Homo sapiens: one gene and its partner. The protein of the gene in region 2 purifies or fractionates together with the protein of the main gene of each other region. This does not show direct contact. Each region holds a gene or a part of one and is shown on either strand. Other genes may lie near its edges.

The links. Proteins that work in one complex are often made in the same cells at the same time.
Region 1: the proteins of OPALIN (region 2) and WDFY3 purify together in Homo sapiens (co-immunoprecipitation; 2 studies listed by BioGRID and IntAct, with this or other methods). This does not show direct contact.

Annotation. Positions count from the first base shown.
Region 1 is NC_000004.12:84,959,257-84,964,553, forward strand, and holds part of WDFY3 (WD repeat and FYVE domain-containing protein 3), read right to left. Parts: intron 1-5,297. UniProt on the Homo sapiens protein: Required for selective macroautophagy (aggrephagy). Acts as an adapter protein by linking specific proteins destined for degradation to the core autophagic machinery members, such as the ATG5-ATG12-ATG16L E3-like ligase, SQSTM1 and LC3.
Region 2 is NC_000010.11:96,355,053-96,361,121, forward strand, and holds the start of OPALIN (opalin), read right to left. Parts: upstream 3,951-6,069; 5' UTR 3,845-3,950; coding exon 3,842-3,844; intron 2,108-3,841; exon of another isoform or gene 1,858-2,107; intron 239-1,857; coding exon 203-238; exon of another isoform or gene 144-202; intron 1-143. UniProt on the Homo sapiens protein: Central nervous system-specific myelin protein that increase myelin genes expression during oligodendrocyte differentiation. Promotes oligodendrocyte terminal differentiation.

The sequences.
Region 1 (5,297 bases), on a different chromosome or scaffold from region 2:
CTCTTTGATAATGACTTAAGATCTATTCAAGAATTTTAAGCAGAAAAAAAAAGGTATACTGGAAAGACCACAATTTCACATTTTAAAAAATTAAAACAAAAAACAATTCATTTTGGAAAGAGTGTGAGGGTAATCTATGAGAAGACGTGAGACTGCAGTTAAGTAGAATATTTAAAAGACCTCTCTAATACTTCAGCAGGGAAATACAGGCCCCAAAATTGTCTTCTGGCAGGTGGAGGTTGAAAATGATAAACATTTAGAAGATAAAAACAACTGGACCTGATGCTTAATTAAATGTGAGACGTGAGGAAGACTGAGGAGTGGATGATGACTGCCAGTCTCAATCTAGTGACAGAACAGGTGCTAACAGCATTTACTCAAGCTGAGGAGATAGGAGAAGAAAATACATTTTGGAAGAACGATTATGAGTTACATTTGGGCCATGCTGAGGTTGACATGCCTGTGTAAATATCTCAGCAGATATGTCTAAACCAGCAGTTGGACATATCCCAGCAAAAAATCAGTGGTTCAGATGTCATTAATACTTGTCACACAAACAAAACTTGATGAACTTCATGGCAGCAATAAAAATCAAATACACTTAACTAGGAATAAACATTACAGTATTAGATGAGAATTAGCCTAAATGTTAAAAAAGGAAGGCTATAATCTTATCTATATTAACGCTTCTTACAAGATCTGGGGATGAGTTCAAAGATAATATGATCGAATTATGTCAGTCTATGAATGTTAGAAATAAGCAAACTACCAAAAAATACCTCAATAGTATAGTAAATGTTTGTTTTTTTGGTTTTTACCCTAGTTTTACTTCCCATTAACCTTCCTAATTTCAACTGAGATTGGGTAGGGGCAATAAATGTAGGCTTTAGAGGCCTGTTATTTGAAAATAATATTCCTGATATGTTTGCTATTTGCATTTTCTCTCATCTCTGGATAACTGCACATTCTATTAATGCTACACAGCCACTTCCCCTAACTACTCAACCTCCAGATTTCTCAATGAAGACAATGCTTCCTCCTGGAAGTCCTTCCAAACTTTGAAGTCTGAGTTCCATGCCCACCCCACCTCCACACCATATGTACCTACCTACAGCATCCACACCTCACGTATGTGATACCCTATTCAACAGTCTCTTCCACTCAACTGTAAGCTCTATCATGATAAGGACCTTGAATACTACATGCACAAGACATTCGTGTATGTATACGAACAAATGTATGAATCAATGACTGAACAAATTATCTATTTTCCGTGAGAACTGTTGAGATGTTTAAACAAACATCTTTCATTATTACGGGGTACTCAAACTGTGAATATAGCTATTCTTATTTACAGTCTAACATGACTATGTATTTTACAAGGTACTCTTCTTATTTTAAAAAAAAGAAGGGGTCTCACTATGTTGCCCAGGCTGGTCTCGAATTTCTGAGCTCAAGCAATCCACCCACCTTGGCCTCCCAAAGTGCTGGGATTACAGATATGAGCCACTGCAACTGGCAGGTTACTCTTCTAAGGGTTTTATTTCATATCATCTTCTGAATGAATGATATCTTATTCCAACGGGGCAACCCAGTATTCTACTACTGAAAATTAAATGTTGATATGAGCTATGTGTAATTTAATCCTTTGTCCACACTAAAACTACGTGAAATTTCAAAGACAGATTTTGGCCAGGCACAGTAATCCCAGCACTTTTGGGAGGCCGAGGCGGGCGGATCACAAGGTCAGGAATTCGAGACCAGCCTGGCTAACATGGTGAAACCCTGTCTCTACTAAAAATGCAAAAATTAGCCGGGCGTGGTGGCGGATGCCTGTAATTCCAGCTACTCGGGTGGCTGAGGCAGGAGAATCGCTTGAACCCGAGAGGTGGAGGCTGCAGTGAGCTGAGATCATGCCACTGCACTCCAGCCTGGGTGACAAAAGCAAGACTCTGTCTCAAAAAAAAAAAAAAAAGATTTTGATACTGTGGTTTCAGAAAGAGTAGTAACTAACTTGACAGTCCTCAAGATTTTAAAATAAAGAACAATTCAATGAGTTTACAGAACTTGGTGAAATCCCATCAAAGCAAATTGTTGGCATACAGGGAGCCACAAAGAATCTTTTTTTCCCTTTAAGTCCAAGTAAAATTGAAAAAAAAAATTCTTTATGATAAATTTTTTAATTCTAATTTTCTAAACAAAGCTTTATCTACCTGTTTAAAATGGTTCATTTTTTAAATTGCTAACAGCTAAGCATTAGAATAATTCCCTAATGATTATTCCTTTACAAAAAGTAATTTTAACAACATGAAAGATGAGTGCACAGTAAAAACTCAACAAACAGCCTTTAAAGGCTGCAGCCTTCATAGTGAGATCATAACTGATGCCCAAGCTAAAGAAAATTATTTTTTTATAAATATCTATCATAAACTTTCTATACTGAGTCTAAACACTACTGAAAATAAGAGTAAAAAAATTTAAAGGAGATCACTACACATATAATAAATGGCTAAAGTTTTAATAACTGACAATACCAAGTGCTGATAAAGATGTAAAGCAACTGAAACTCTCAGATATTGCTGTAGGAATGTAAAATGATATCACCATTTAGGAAAACAATTCAGTAGTTCAATAAAAAGGTTACTGATATTAATAAATATACACTTATCCTAGGACTCAAAAATCCCACTCCTAGGTATTAACTCAAGAAAACTGAACATTTTTGTCCCTCACATAGACCTGTATGCAAATGTTTATAGCAGCTTTATTCATATTTGATCAAAACTAGAAACAACTCAAATGTCCATCAGTTTATGAATGGATGAACAAATTGTGTTACCCTGGTGTAAAACAATGTTACTCAACAAAAAAAGGAACTGTGCTGGAGCTGGCTGGTACCAGCTCATGGGAGCCCATTGTTAAATTTTCAGGAATTCTGTAAGCTGGTAGCTTAATTTAGGCCATAGTGACAGTGTTTACACTACAATGATTAGCGAATGCTATAAATCAGAGATTCTTTTTTTTTTTCTGAAGAGTATGTTGTTAAGACATTTCCCAGCACATCACTGAACAAAATACTGACACATGTAACAACTTAATAAATATCAAGCATTACGCTAAGTGCAAGGGAACACGAAAGGCTACATAATGTATAATTCCATTTATATATGCCAGACGAGATAAAACTTTAAGAGCATCAATTAAATTAACGGTTTTCAGGGGCTGGGAGTGTAGAGGTAGAGGACTGACTCATGACAGGGCATGAGTGAACTTTTTAGAGTAACGGAAACGTCCTTTTCTATGTCTTGACTGTGGTGGAGACTATCCAATTATAGACATTTGTTAAACTTTTACTTTCACTACATGTAAATTATGCTTCAATAAACATTACTCTAAAAAATTAAAGTAGGAGCCATTTCTTTTTTTTTTTTTTTTGAGATGGAGTCTCACTCTGTCACCCAGGTTGGAGTGCGGTGGCGCCATCTCAGCTCACTGCAACCTCCACCTCCCCAGTTCAAGCGATTCTCCTGCCTCAGCCTCCCGAGCATCTGGGACTACAGGTGCACACCACCAGGCCAAGCTAATTTTTGTATTTTTAGTAGACACGGGGATTCACCATATTGGCCAGGCTGGTCTTGAACTCCTGACCTCAGGTGATTCATCTGCCTCGGCCTCCCAAAGTGCTGGGATTACAGGTGTGAGCCACCATGCCCGGTCGCCATTTATTTCTTAATCATTTCATGGATGATAAATACACCACACACACCAAGGGGGAACTGGATTTATCAGTGTAAATATCAGGAAGGCAGATTTTGACTCGACATAAATAGAAATATAGATTTAAAATGTAAAAACAAACAAACAAAAAAACAAAAAAAAAAAAACGGCCTGGCACGGTGGCTCACGCCTGTAATACCAGCATTTTGGGAGACAGAGGCAGGCAGACCACTTGAGCTCAGGAGTTCAAGACTAGCTTGGCCAACAGGGTAAAACCCCGTCTCCACTAAAAATACAAAAATTAGCCAGGCGTGGTGGCGAGGGTCTATAGTCCCAGCTACTTGGGTGGCTGAGGCACGAGAATCTCTCGAAACCCGGGAGGCAGAAGTTGCAGTGAGCCCAGATGATGCCACTGCACTCCAGCCTGGGCAACACAGCAAGACTCCATCTCAAAAGAAAAAAAAAAAAAGGTCAAGAAAAAAAAAAGAAGAGGGGAAATTCGTAATCACAGGAAATACTAAAATCAGAGGTGGATGATCCTGCCAAAGATGCTGTAGAAATGACCCTAGTTCGGGTGTGATTTCAGACTAGCATCATTAACAGAGGTTAGTATCATTAAGATCTCTTCATACTGGGGGTCCAGGGCTCTAAAATCTTATGATATTGTATGCTATGATAATCTCAGATATACTTTGCAATTCTAACTAAAACATCAATTACTTATTTTAACATCAATCAAATGGTATTACCGATCAAAGTCTAGTATACCCTGTTTATGAATGCTGGCTCTAACTTCAGACAGTCTGGGTTCACATGTTGGCCCACCAGTGTTTGTATGACTTTAAAACAACTTGTTCTATTTCCCCATCTGTAAAATGGGATTAATATTTTCCTTCGATTTAAATGAGAATGTGTTAGAAACAACGTCTATGTGCTGAACTCTTAATCACAAACATTTCTTGGGCATAATCAGAAATGAAGGACATAAATCATCAAATGTAATTTAAAAATTTTAGCTTTCCAAATATGGAATATGTATTCTTTAATTTTATATCTAGAAGTTCATAATCTTTTACAGACCCATATCCTTTTGAGAATGTGATCACCCAACAGAGTCTTTATCTAGGAAAAAAGCAAATATATGCTATATTCTGCATATGATTTCTGGGAAGCCAAGGACCCTCAGAAGTATATGCATGAAATTAAGAAAGAAGCAGGGCATGGTGGCTCACATCTGTAATCCCAGCACTTAGAGAGGCTAAGGCAGGAGGATCACTTGAGGCCAGGAGTTCAAGATCAGCCTGAGCAACACAGGGAGACCCTCATCTCTACAAAAAATAGAAAAATTAGACAGGCATGGTGGCATGCACATGTAGTCCTAACTTCTTGGGAGGCTGTGGGAGAAGGATCACTCGGGCCCAGAAGTTCAAGGCTGCAGTGAACCGTGATCGTGCCACTACACCCCAGCCTGGGCAACAGGGCAAGACCCTGTCTCTAAAAAAAGAAATAAATAAATAAATTAAGAACAACTGATGTAAACTTTTAAAATTGCAAAGTTGAGCAGTGGAATTTAAGAATCT
Region 2 (6,069 bases):
TGCCACTGCACTCCAGCCTGGGTGACAGAGCAAGACCTTGTCTCAAAAAAAAAAAAAAAAAAAAAAAAAAAAAAAAAAAAAAAAGAAAGTCTGTGTAACTTATCACCGTGTGTGAGGGGTTTATGTGAGTTCTGGAGACCTACTGTAAATTCTGCACTGGTCTTCTCTGCGTTGCCTGGTGAATGGGGGCTGCTGTACTTACTGTGTTCGCCGGCAGGGTGAAGTTCAGTGAAAAACTCTGCAAGATAGAAGTAAACATTAAAGCTCCCAGGGATGGTCAGCAAGCTCCTTCCTCACTTCCTCAAACTCACTGACCCTGGTGGATTCCGAGAGGTCATTGATCCTATAGACTCAGCCAGCCCCCATCGTCCTGCACAGTCTTGGCCCCAAAAGAAGGAAGGGGAGGCAAGGAGCCTGTCATGAGTTCCTCCCTCAGCATCAAGTCAGTCTTGCCACCGCCCCCAACCAGGTCCTCGACCAGGATCAGATGAAGAGGCAGCCTGCAAGGCTATTGTCTGAGGGGTCCCATTCACAAGGGCAGCAAACACATGACTAGAAATTCAGCAAAAGGCTAAAATTATGTTTATTCCCTCTAGAACTCCTTTGAGACAGAAAACTGTTGAATTTAGAAGTATTTTGTGTTTTCTCCTTGGAGTAGAAGGTAAGACCCCCAAAGGGCATGGTCTAACAAGAACACCTGATCCTTACCCGGGGAAGGCAAGGCTTCTGTTTTTGCTACAACTGAGGCAGAGGTTCTAGGTTGCTGGAGCTGAAGTGGCCAGGAGGACAGGGGAACAGCAAACCCTTCTCTTTCCTCCCCTCACTTAGTAGATGGTCTCACCTCTCCCGCAAATATGGAGTCCAAATTTAAAGATCGTGGGCTCAGTGGAGCACCAAGTAGCCTGCCCAGGGCCTCAGGTGGCTCCTTTCTCCTCCCTGTCCCTAGCCCCTGTTACTCTAGCCTTTCCAGGCTGCTCCTTACCAAGTCCTTTCCCTACCTAGATTGGAATGATGGGTGGACCTGTTCTGACTCAGCCAGTGAAACTATTTTCCCCTCTTTCCCTGGGTGGAAGTGGTCTTGTTCCCACTTTCTGGACTCTCAGCCCCTTGGGTCCAGCCACCCTGGATTAATACCTCCTGGCTGGGCCCTCCTTCAGCCTCGGTCTCCCTGACCCCCAGATATTTCCCTGGGCTTGGTCTACACCACAGCTTCCCGTCTTTCCAGCATCCCAAGACCAGATTCTGTCATTGTAGAAACAATGCATTCATTAAGTTTTAAAATTAAATGTTATCCAACAATAGGAAAGTTGTGAAACATTAAAGAATCCAAAAGAATCATGTTTCACACCTGAATTACCTGAAAGATCATCTCTCTCAAAACCCTCATTTTCCAGCAGAGGAAACTGAAACCCAGGGACTTATCAGAAATCACCTCATGGACAAATGAGAACAGTTGGAGCCACATAGACCAGCCAATGGGCCGCAGTCTATGTGACTCAACCCCAACCCGAAAGATGGTAACAGAGGATCTCATCCCAACAGAAGCAAACTGACAAAACACCTATTTCAGCTGACTTACTGATGGATTGGAATTCAGATGGGTTAATGAACAAGAAAATCTTTTGTGAACCAGAAGTGTTTTAAGCACCTAGAATGTGTAAGTCCCCCTAGCTTTTGCCCCAAATATTATGTCCTTCAATCAACGTGGCCCTGCTCAACTAGCACGCTTCAGTGGTGCCTCTGCTCACTTCTCCCCCTCTTGGCAATAGGACACCCGCATTTTATAGAGAATAACCAAGCCTCAAGAATTTGAACAGGTTTCCCAAGTCCAAACAACTACTTAGCTGTCACCAGAACCTGAGTGTCCCGGTGACAACCTCTTTCCACCACTCTGCAAGGCTTCCAAGCAACTCCAGTAGTCTCTGTGGATGAATCAGAGCACCCAGGCTGACAGCACTGTGCACCTCTGCTTCTGGGATGACGGTGGAACACAGGGACGTCTGGGCCTCTTAGGTCAGGGTCCTCTTGCTCAAGGGACCTAACCACTGCTCTTCACGCTAGCACCAGACCAACACGTGCTGCAAGGACACTGGATGGTCGCTGCACTGAATGCAGCTGCCCAGAGCTTTATCTCATCAGTGGGCACTGAGGACTGATGTCAGCAGCCCTAAGACAAAGCTTCCTTTGGGAGGACAGTAGAAGAGGGGGTGCAGCAACAAGTGGGCCATTGCATGTGTTGTTTATCAACATTCGGATGACGGAGATTTTGGCCAATTTCAGAAAGACACTCATATTTTGTAGAAACACAGTACAGTGCTCTCATGGAGAGAAAAACATCGCACAAATTAGGGTGGAGAAGAATCTGATGCAGTGCCCTTCAGAGACACAGCTGAGTGGGATGATGCAACCCTGAGCTTGGAGCCACCTGATCTAAATTCGAGCCCACACTTAGCCACTTAGGAGCTGTGTAGTCTTGGATAAGTCACTCAAACCCTCTGGTCTCCATTTTCTCACAACAAATCTATTCTCCAAGGCTCAGTTTTCCCATTCTCAAAATGGGATACTATTAACTTGCCTTGCCCACTTCACAAGGGAATACCGTAATGTCATCTGTGGCAGCTCCTTTCTCCCAAACTGTAAAACACCCTCTGTGTTTTAGGGATCACGTGGTAGCATATTCTTTATGGCCTGGCCAGCACAGAGCTAAGGATAGGAAAGTTCTTGTGGAATGGAATTGCAAGCATGAGTTAGTGATAGTCAAAGTACTAGAATTGGATACAATGCAATTATTGCTTACTGCTAGTCTGAGCACTATGCAGTATCTACACAATGATTCTGAAGGCATTTTGGGATCTCAGTGGCTGAACGTCCTTCATTATAAGTTTGCAGTTTGTGAGAGGAAGGAGGAAGAGACAGGATAAAAACTTACTGCTGTTGAAGGTGTGCTGGGTATAAGACCCCATACTCACAACCTCCCCATGAAGGGAGCACTATTATTCCTATATTATACCTGTGGAAACTGAGACCAAGATAGGTTTTTGCTCACCAGCTTTTAAGTGGTAGAGATCAGGTTAGATCACAGATCTCCCTAACTCCACAGACTGAGCTCTACTCCTTTTAACAATGCTTTTTGTAAAAAAAAAAAAAAAAAAAAAAAAAAAAAATTCCACAAGAAAGTGAGATTACACAATATTCTTCTTTTTGTGTCTGGCTTATTTCACTTAGCATAATGTTCTCCAGGTCCAAATAGGACAAACATGGCAAATGGCAGGGTCTCCTCCTATTCTAAAGCTAATATTCAGTTGTATATATACATATAAACCACAGTCCCTTTATCCATTCATCCACTGATGGACACCTAGGCTGTTTCCATAATTCTTTAGTAAATCACAGAACCCTCTTGTTTTCTCTTCTAACTTAGCAAACTTCATTTGATTGAGTCACAACAAAATATTTATCACAAGTAAACAAGAAAGATGGAAAATTTCTGATCAATGATGACCATCCATGTTGCTGATGATGGAACAAAAAGCCAGATTAAACAAGTAAGACAGATAAAATCGTTGATTAGATCCATTGCTTCAACTAGAAAGGGAACATAGGTGAAACATCTACTCTGTACTCTTGTATGTGGGGTTTTAAAAACAAACCTTAATACCAAAATGAAAGACAAGATCAGCAAATATTAGGTGAGAAGTTTAAAAAATTATTGGTATTTTGCATATAGGAAAATAATTTAAAATAAAGTCCCTTTACTTCATTGTACATTTAATTGAATTTGGAGGTTTTTTATAGTAAGAAATGAAAGTTCGATTGAGAAGAGATGCCAGCTTTCACTCACCATTTCTGACAGTCTCCCAGGAACCTTCTTCGTACACTGCCTTTGGTAAGCTCCTTTCTCACTGGCTTTATTGGCTTGTGTCTTTCATTTGTAGGAACAGTTAACTGACAAAGCTGCAGAGGCAGGCTGAGAGGTGGCTCCAAGAGAACCCTGGCCAAGCCATTTATGGTCAGGGGAGTAGCCAAGCCCTCAGTCCATCCCTCGGGAAAGATGGGCTGCTGCTGCATGGCCGACGTGTATGGCCTGGTTCACCCACCCTCTTTGCCTTGATTTTCTGTCCTTACTTTTCAGGCTGCTTTCTTGGCTATACCTCCATCTCAGCAAAGAAGCCACAGCTGGCCTGAGAGCTTGGGGGCTTCTGCAGCCTGCAGCCCTTTGGAAACAATGGGTTACATGAGGCTGAGGCTGGCCACTCCATCCCCAGCTGACGGGAGTCCACATTAACCATGTTACTGATAATGATGGAGTCATTGTGTTACATGGACAACAGCATGGACATTCGGGATGTCTGGAGGAGGGGTGGGGGCCCATTCTGTTGCAGGAGTCACACTGCTGGGGGCTCCAGCTGCTGCAAGGTGCTGCACTCAGTGGCCAATGAGCTGCCTGGTGTGAGTTCAGCCTCACCCCCTCTCTGTTTTTGTATTTTGGGTGGGAAGCTCTCTAGACCTGGAGGAAGCCATGGACTTGGGCTGCTTTATAACTTACAATTTCCCTGTTAGGGATTTGCCTCTTTAAAATGGTGAATGAGTTGCTAATAAAACAACAGAATTAAACCAATAATTTGGCCATTGAAATGAAAACCACTGTGAGAGGAGCAGATAGGAGTGTAAGGAGAGAGCGACTCAAGTGACAGAGGAGGCCGTTGTTTAGATGACTCTGGGAGATGGCACTGAAGCTGTGCGTGAAAGATGAGAAGAGGGCAGACATGTGAAGGGTTGAGGGAGGAGAGTCCCAGGCAGAAGCCACAGCAAATGCTAAGCCCTGTAAGCTTGGTGCACTCCCAGAGCAGGCAGGAGGCCGGTTGGCTGGAACAACATAAACCAGGGAGTCACCCGGGAAGGGGCTAAGGACGGAGTGAGTTTGAGCCCTTTTGATGTGACATGGGAGGGCATGGTAAGATTTTCATCCTTAGATGAAACCTTTTCCAAGGGTTTTTCAGTGGGAGAGATGCATGATGTAATTGCTGGTGACGAGGATTGCTAGGGCTTCTCTGTGGAGCCAAGATTACAGGGGAAGAGAGTGGAAGCAGGTGGCTGGCTAGTGGAGTCCAGGTGAGCGATGAAGGTGGCTGCTGTAGGAAGACAGCAGTGAATGATTGTGCTCTCTACTGTGGAGGTGGAGCCACTGGGATTAAATGATGAAAAAAATATGGGGCGGGGAAGGGCGAGGTGAGGGAAAGAGAAGAATAAAGCCAACTCCTGGGTTTGAGGCTTGACTAACAAAAATGGAGATGCTATTAGCTTAGGCAGGTAATACTGGAGAAACAGATTGCCCTTACACCTGAGTAGCCTAGGGGCTGTCCAAGTGTGGGTGCCAAGTAGGCGACTGGATAAAGGGGATCTGGGGCTGAAGACATCCGTTTGGGAGTGGCCGGCCTGTGGATGGTTTTAAAGCCCCCGGTGTGCATGAGCAGGTAGACAGGGCAGAGGGCCAGGACAGCTGCCAGGGGTTCACAGACATTTAGCAGCCTGGAAGAGGGGGTGTCACTAGCAAGGAGAGTTGAGTGAGGCAGGAAAATCAGATAAGTTCGGGGGTCACAGGAAAGAAATTTGATTCAAGAAGGGGAGTAGATGTTGGTTAATTGTATCAACTGCTGCTGAGAGGTAGCCTCCGAAGAGGTCAGAAGAGCCTTCTGATTCCCAGTATCGGGGTTGCTGGTGGCCTTGACAAGAGCAGTTTAGTGGCACAGTGGAGACCAGATTGCCTTTAATCAGGTGGTTTTTCCATCCTGGTTGCATACCTGAATTACCTAGGGAGTGGTAGGGGGCTGGTTATAAAAACTCTTGATGCCTAGAACCTGCCCCCAGAGACTCTGACTTGATTGATCAGAGTGAGGCAGGGGCATCCCCAGGGGACGCTAACGAGCAGTCAGGGGTGACAGCTGCTGTTCTAATCAGTTCTTAGACTGTGGTAATCAGCCACCTGCAACATGGCCGACACTGATGCTATCCTAAACAAGACCAATGAGGCCTCTGCCTTGTGGGCTTCCAGTTTCCAAGACTCCACAG